Homo sapiens: one gene and its partner. The protein of the gene in region 1 interacts with the protein of each later gene in a pairwise test. Each region holds a gene or a part of one and is shown on either strand. Other genes may lie near its edges.

The links. Proteins that work in one complex are often made in the same cells at the same time.
Region 2: the proteins of AHI1 (region 1) and HAP1 interact in binary tests that used the Homo sapiens proteins (3 or more experiments, as listed by UniProt).

What each region holds. Positions count from the first base shown.
Region 1 is NC_000006.12:135,490,060-135,495,740, forward strand, and holds part of AHI1 (jouberin), read right to left. Parts: intron 5,651-5,681; exon of another isoform or gene 5,480-5,650; intron 2,233-5,479; 5' UTR 2,179-2,232; coding exon 2,169-2,178; intron 689-2,168; coding exon 564-688; intron 1-563. UniProt on the Homo sapiens protein: Involved in vesicle trafficking and required for ciliogenesis, formation of primary non-motile cilium, and recruitment of RAB8A to the basal body of primary cilium.
Region 2 is NC_000017.11:41,722,140-41,724,643, reverse strand, and holds the end of HAP1 (huntingtin-associated protein 1), read left to right. Parts: 3' UTR 1-2,004; downstream 2,005-2,504. UniProt on the Homo sapiens protein: Originally identified as neuronal protein that specifically associates with HTT/huntingtin and the binding is enhanced by an expanded polyglutamine repeat within HTT possibly affecting HAP1 interaction properties.

The sequences.
Region 1 (5,681 bases):
TATGATTCCAAGGGGATCAGGTTGTAGTTAGTTGCTGATTTGCTTAGTCTTTGAGCACTGTATTTTTAATTCCTTCAAGTGTGCTGCCAAAGATTCTATCATTTGAAAGTGTGCCTCAAACATAAAAGGATAATTATTACCATACGGCCATTGATTTCTCCTGGTTCTGTTGGGTAGAATCACACAGAAATAGTTTAAATAAGCACAAGCTATTCAATATCTGAAGTTAAGATACTACTTCCTAAGTTCTTCACAATTCTGGGTTAAAAATATTTTCTTCAAAAATGTTATCATGGCTAGTTTTGAGTTTCCCCACTATCTCTGGTCATTTTCCCCACTGTGTGTGTGTTCTTCCTGTAGGACAGCACTCAAGAATGAAGTCAATATTCTCACAGTGATGTTGATTCTAATATAAACTTTATTTTTACCACATGTTATTGACCATGACATAGTGTTACTGTTTTTAATTTTCAAAATTCCTTAGAATTTTAACATAAAATGCAGCCATATCTGCATTTTATGCGCATATGTAAATCACTATTACCCAATGATCATTTACTTACTGAGATGTTTTCTTCAGACCTGACAAGTTTTTTCTTCAGTTTTTTCTTTTCACGCATTAGATCACTGTGGGTCTTAAGCAATTCTTCAAAGCGAACTTTGGTTTTTACTTTTGCTTCACTCTCAGCTACAAAAGATACAGCCATGTGATTTTGTAAATGACTCTATCATAACACACAACCTACACTACTAGGATGTTAAGAAATAAGTTCTTGTAAATATCGGCATGAGTTCTCTAGCTACATTAGAAAAACTCACCTATCTTTCCTTCTTAAAATATTTTTTATTTTGACTTTAGTGACACAACATTCACCTGTATCCCTCTGACCTTTTTGGCCACTCACTCTAAAAGTCTCCTTTGCTAAGTTAACTTTTTATTTCTGATAAACAGTAGCATCTACCACTGTTAGTTACGTGTTATGTGGCTTTAGACAAGTTACTCAAGATCTCTAAACTTCATTTTCCTTATCTGTAAAATCACAATTATCTTATGCCAAAGATCATTTTGCATGAAAAATGGCTAAGGTGTGCCTAGCCTGTAATCAGTATTCCACAAATATTAACAGGTTTTTCCTTTAAAACATGAAGAAGATAATGCTTAAGCCCCTGAAAATTTCCCAATACATTTAGGATAAAATAAGTCTTTTATATGCCCTACAGGGCTCCATACCTCCTGATCTATCTCCAGGGCTTCAAATCAAGACAAATATCCCCTTAGATGCCTATGTTCTAGCTATAATACCCTTCCTTTAGCTCCTCCGTCACAGCAAGCTCCTTCCCACATGAAGCTGTTTCTGAGGCAAGCTTCCTCTAATTCCTCACCTGGCTGGTGTTAACCTGTCTGTTTAAATGCTGCCTGTAAATAAAACACCTCCTGACAAACTCATCTAATTTTCCCTTTTCTCACATAGCAGGTTGTTCTCTTCCTTCACAGCACTCAACCCAAATGGAAATTATATAATTATTTTTATATCTATATAAAGAAACATATTTTCTGTTTCCCCCATAACTACATCCCCAGCTACTATTATGAGGTCTGACATAGTGTACATAGTCATTATGTTTTAAATTAATAAATGCTGAATGAATGGGTGCTCTAGAGCAAGTGTCGGCAAACTATGGCCTGCAGGCTAGTCACTTGTTTTTGTAAAGATTTATTGAAATCAGACATACCCATTTGATTAAGAATTGTTATAACTGCTTTCATGCTTTAAAAGAGACAGAGAGACAGAGTTGAGCAGTTATAGCAGAGACTAAGCCTAAAATATTTACTAGCTAGCCCTTTTAGAAAAGATTGCCAATGCTTGTGGTGGAGTAAAACATTCAATTTTGATGATAAAGAATAAAAACTAACCCTATGTTGTAATCATTATTTACCTTGTCCATCTGAGTCCCAAACTACCATCCATTAAATACATACTAACCTTAATCACAATATTAAATAGAAAACTGAATACAAAACCAATAAGTATCTCTAAATGTAGTATATTTGGTCAATGACATCTACTGTATTCATTAATCTGTTCAAGAATCCCTTAAAATAAACCAAACTTAAAAGTAAATGTATAAAATATAAATTTTATACATAAATTTCATAGAAGTCTTACCTGTAGGCATCTCTCAGCTTTATGCAGAGGACTGAGAATGCAAAGCATTGACTCAATCAGGATCCTATCGAAACAAAGGAGATGTATTTGTAATATGGAACTTCCAAATAAAAATTATAAAACGTTCTTCACACAAGATCATGCCATTGTATGTCCACTACTTCATTAAGTTTATACCAATAAAGCTATGTTCCCTTAACCCAATCTTATGCAAATGACTTGGGTACATTTGAATCAGTTTAGGGCTCTAAAATCAAGGGAAACAAACTAGATCATATCTGAATAAAGTATTTATATATTTGAAACAAAAAAAACATTTTGAAGGCAGTGCACATCTAATGTGGTATGTTAATAAACTTTTTAAAGTGTTTTAATACATTAATGAACATTTCAACGCACTTTTAAGAAACCAAACTCCATCTCAGGATTGACTTTCCTAAGAGCATTCAATATTACATTAAAGCATGCTTGTGGGTAGCACACTCACAGTGAATTTAAATACCTCTGTGTCTGCCACTGAAAATTCTGCTACAATAGAGAAGGATAGTACAAATATTTGCACCATCTTTCTTTAATAAAACCTGGATGTGTATTACTGTGTCAGAACTACTCAAAACCATGGTTCAACTCAGTATGTATATTACTAAATTGCCCATTTTATTAAAAAAATCGGTGTATGTCTAAAATGAACATATTCTCACATTAGAACATTTAGAATGTAATATGCATGTTTTTGAGACTAAAACTGAAGAGTGTTAAAAAAAAAGCTGGTTCAGGAATTATTGATTTGTTTGTTTTTGAGATGGAGTCTCCCTTTGTCGAGTGCAGTGGTGTGATCTCGGCTCACTGCAACCTCCGCCTCCCAGGTTCAAGCGATTCTCCTGCCTCAGCCTCCCGAGTGGCTGGGATTACAGGTGTGCGCCACCACACCCAGCTAATTTTTGTATTTTTAGTAGAGACAGGGTTTCATCATGTTGGCCAGGCTGGTCTTGAACTCCTGACCTCATATGATCTGCCCGACTCAGCCTCCCAAAGTGTTGGGATTACAGGCGTGAGCCACCACACTGGGCCCAAGGCATTATTGGTTAATGCTCCAATTCCCTGGACATCCACATTCATGTTCCTCTTGCAGAAATGTCTAAGAAATTCTAAAAAGAAAGGAATGATTATGTAAACATACCTAACTATGTCAGTTAACTTAGGCAACAACTACGTGGCACCCAGTCAAAACAGACATCACTAAATCCATGGAGTAAAAATTCCTATACTTTAGTGATAGGAGCCTGTATTTACTCCTTCTAGCAGTTATAAATTTAATAAATCTAGTCTTCTACTTTCTAGTCTATATTAAATTAGAAAAGAGAAGCTGCAAAGGCAAGTGCAATGACAGCATGAGTAATTGAAACCTGAGAGCACGGAAGTAGAAAAATCATAAAACAAATAAAAATTTAATATTTATACTACTCGATGGTCATCTAATAGGCCAGGAAAAAGCTGACCTATATTATGACTATGATTCATCAAAAAAAAGCCTGCTGGGCGCCGTGGCTCATGTCTGTAATCCCAATACTTGGGAAGGATAAGGCGGGTGGATCACTTGAGGTCAGGAGTTTGTGTCCTGTCTGGCCAACATGGTAAAACCCCATCTCTACCAAAAATACAAAACTTAGTCAGGCGTGGTGGTGGGTGCCTGTAATCCCAGCTACTGGGGAGGCTGAGGCAGGAAAATCGCTTGAACCTGAAATGTGGAGGTTGCAGGGAGCCAAGACTGCACCAGTGCGCTCCAGGTGATGGAGTGAGGTAATATTTTAGAAAGATTAAATAACTAATGAAGAGGCAGGAGAAAGAATCGGAGATAATTCCCATGTTTCTAGAACTAGAATAAGTAGATTAGTAGTATCATTACACTGTAATATAATGCAGTACAGGGCAGTAGTTTAAAATCCATGTCCTAGAATTAGTTTCCATAGTCACTTGCGTGACTTTTGTTTCCTCATCTATAAAAACACCCTACCAGTGCCGACTCAAAGGGTTGTTGTAAGGGTTAAATGATTTAGAACAGTACCGTAGACAGAAGAAGCAACAATAAATGTTAGCTATAACTGTAACAGGTTGTTAGGGTGCAGTCACTGAGCTTAGTATGGGTCATGTTGAGTTGGGTATCTGAAGGGCACTGAGCAGCTACAAGCATCAGCTCCATTTTCAGATCCTTGGATCCAAATACCAGTTCTATCTGCCAGCAGATTCACCTCTATGGATATCAACTTCCTAATCTTTCACAATAATAAGAGTAAATCACTCACAGTGTTTTTATAAAGATTAAATGAGAATATGCAAATAAAATACTAGGCACAATGCCTAGCACATGGCAAGCCCTTCAAAAACAACAACTGTTATTACTGTCACGTGTGTGTGTGTTTACGTATATAATCATATTATGTTTGTTAGGCAATCTACTAATCCAGCAGGGAGACAATAGGCTGAAGATTTGGGAGTTATTTATAAATATGATAGTTCCAAGAAAATAAAAAGCCAATGAGAATCCTGTGAGCCTACAATATAAAGTAAAATCAGGGAGATAGGTGAAAAACTGGGAGATAGAAGCATTACAGAAGCAAACCCAAGTTTTAAAGGAGATGTTGCCTATATACTGTGTGGCATCAAAAGGGGCTGGAGGTTTTGAAGAAAGTCCACTGAATCTGCAAGTAGGAAGTCACGTGTGTCAAAGCTGTTTATAGAGGGGCAGAAACTTAGCAGGCTGGGGCTAAGGAATGAATGGAAGGTGACACCTGTAGAAGGGACATGTAGACAATTCTTTACAGAATTCTTCCAACTGTCTTCCCATCACCCCCAAAGGCAGTGACATGAGACAGTAACTCTGAGGGACAAAAACACTGTGGAAGGATTATGCTTTTTGTTTTAAGATTGTTTCCACGCCGCTATCACCTTTCCCTTAAAAAAAAAATCATCATCTACACAGCAACTAGTGTAATTTTCTAAAATTCAAATGTGATGGTGTCGTTTCTTCGCTTAAAATTCTTCACTAGCTCCCAATCGCACATTGAAAAAAATATCAAGTCCTTACCAGTGAGGTCCAAGGCCATTTATGAAATGTCCCCTTCACACATCCACTGTGTTCCAGACATGTGAAACTACCTGCAGGCCTTCACGTGTGCCAAGTTCTCTCTTGCTTTTGTATCATTACACACATATCCCCTCCCCTGAAAAATGTGCTTCCTCCTTTGTCTCTCTAACAAACTCCTCACTATCCTTTAAAGGCAAATGATATCTTCTCTAGAGAGCATTCTCACCTTGAAGGGCATTTAAGAACTTCTCTTCTGTGCTTCCAGGGTGCCTTAATCTTTGTAGCTCCCTCTACCTCAACCTTGAATTTTCACCCTGGTAAAATGTTCTGTAACTCCCACCAAACTGCTAGCTTTGGAGGACCAAGCCAATGCTCTCTTATAGTTATGTATCTGCCACTATGAAAGAAAAGAGAGGAGAAGAAGAGAG
Region 2 (2,504 bases), on another chromosome or scaffold:
CTGTGCTTATTTGCATGGACTTTGCATATCATTTGCATAGACACCTCTGATCCCCTTCAGTGGGAACCGTAGTGTCAGTGCTCATTTATGTGGCATTTGCTTAGGATTCCAGATCTCCATCCACTTTTCTCCTGGGGGCTGGGCTGGGGGTTAGGGCTGGGACTGTGCCCCCACACTGCGCCTCAGCTTCCCATCTCTGCCCGCTTGCTTCCCCTGCCCCCAACCCCTGCCTCCTCTATCCCCCAGGCTCTCCAACTCTGCAGCAGTGGCAGCAGCAGTCAAAACAAACACGGGGGGCGGTGGGTGGGATGGTGGAGCAGCCCGGGGGCTGACCCAGGCTGGAGGACAGGGCCAGCCACCCTCCCACGGCCTGGGAGGAAGAGAGGCCTTCTGGGACTGCCCAGGCTATGGGGACAAAGGCCTTCACCAGCAAGGGCCACAGTTGGAACAGTCCCCTGGGTGTCAGAAGGTGGGCTAGGGCCTCCTGCAGGGTTGTGGGGTGGAACAGGGTCTCCTCTCCCCAGCCAGAAACCCCAAAGTCTGGGAGCTGCACCTTCCGAGTGCAGGCCATGTGAGCCCTGCCTCTTTAAGGAGCCGCAGGACATGAAAGATGACCTTGTGACACTCATGCACAGCAGCCATTGCACGTGCATCAGCTCCCATCAGCCTCATTCCGTGGCAGGTGATGTGTCCCCATTGGTTAGGTGAGGAGGGTGAGGCTCAGAGAGCTAAGGACACTTGTTTGGGGCCACACAGCCGGGGTAGATCTGAGCCCGTCCTCTCTACTCCTGTGCTGTAGCACCTTCACTGGCCCATCCCTCCCCTCTAGTGCTGTCCTGGTACCCGTCCCAGCCTGTCCCCATTCTCATGGCCCTTTGGTCACTGCCGGGTGGAATAGCACTGGCTTCAGCAGGCGTGTCATGTAAGCTTGTGCAGGTTATAAACTGAACCATGACCTTTATGGCGCATGCAGGGGGCAACCTGCATAATTATCAATGGCGACTTTCCGTGTCCTTCTGATACAGTTGATCAGACCCCTGCCCACCGCCCAGGCCAGGCCTGTGGTCATCAATGCCCCAGTTCACATCCACCTGCTTCTCTTCCAGGCTTTGCTGTTCCCCAGCAGCCTGCAGAGGCCCCACAGACAGCTTGAGGCCCCTCCTTCTGCTGCCTGGCCAAGCCCCACACCCGCAGACCCTCCTTCCCATCCTCTGAAATGGGACCCTGTGTCTGTCACCAGCCCACCCTCTGTGTTCATGAACCTGGGCTGGAGCTTGGGGACCCCTCCCTGCCCCTGGCTTCCTCTTCCATGTTCTGCCCTTTCCCACATGTTGGAGGCTTTTCCAACGTCTTCAGGGACAGGCGGTAGGAACCCCGGCCCTCGCTCTGCAGCTGGTGCAAAAGCTGTGGCTGCCAGGTCTGGGCCACATGGCAGCCCAGGGGGCAGGAGAAGCCCGGGAGAGGCCCACTGGCTACCAGACTCAGCCCTGAGCAGGGAACAGGGCCCAGCTTCCACCGGCAGGGAGTTGTGAGCGCCTTCCCAACAATGTGCCCCTCACCCCTTGATGCCCATGCTAATGGTAGCCACCCTGGTTCTTGTTGACTTGAGGGACCTGGCTGTCTTCCCTGTTCTTCATCCTTTCTTCTCAGTCCCTACCTACTGTTTGTAACCACAAGTGTCTCTGTGTGTGGGTGGGTGAGGGCCCCTCTGCCCAGTGGTGTGTCTCCTCTCCCTCCCTCCCTCTTCTGCCAGTGGCCTGGGGGTGTCCAGGCTCCCATCCGTGGCCCAGCCCCTCTCCCCTCTGTCTTGATCCCCCCCTCCCTGCCCCTGGCTTCCTCTTCCATGTTCTGCCCTTTCCCACACCTTTGTTCCTCAATAGCTGGGGGCTGGGACTGAGGCCTCCTGCAGGTACCTGCCCCCCTTCACACAGCACCTCTCAATCTCCTATTGCTTGTCAGCCTGTGTGCGTGTGGTGCAGGAAATAAAGGATCTATACCCTCCTGGCCCAGCCTCCAGCTGTCTCTCTAGGGAGTGTGTGTGTGCACTTGGCAGGGCGAAGTTGTAGAGAAAGGGTGGATGCTAATATTGAAGTATGTGCCGAGGACTCCTATTAAATACGCCGTTTAATCATAGCAGCAGCTCCTAGAGGGCGGTGGGTGATGTCATAAGTGTCTGTTGGATGGAGAAACTCAGGCCAGAGTAGGTTAAGTGATGCCCTCACCAGCAGATCATGGCTAGTGTGGAGCTGGGATTTGAGCTCATGCTTCCCTGATCCTTTCACCCCAGAGACTGACTCAGTGGCCTGGCTGTGAAAGATAGGATGGGAGAGAGTCACCCACTGTCTTAGGGTGAAGTCCCCAGAGCAGACCTGGAACAGGGTTTAGGAACAAGTATAGTCGCCCTCCGTATCCTCAGGCTCTGCATCCGTGGAGTCAACTAACCACAGATAGAAAATATTTGGGGGAGGCTGGGTGCAGTGGCTCATGCCTGTAATCCTAGCACT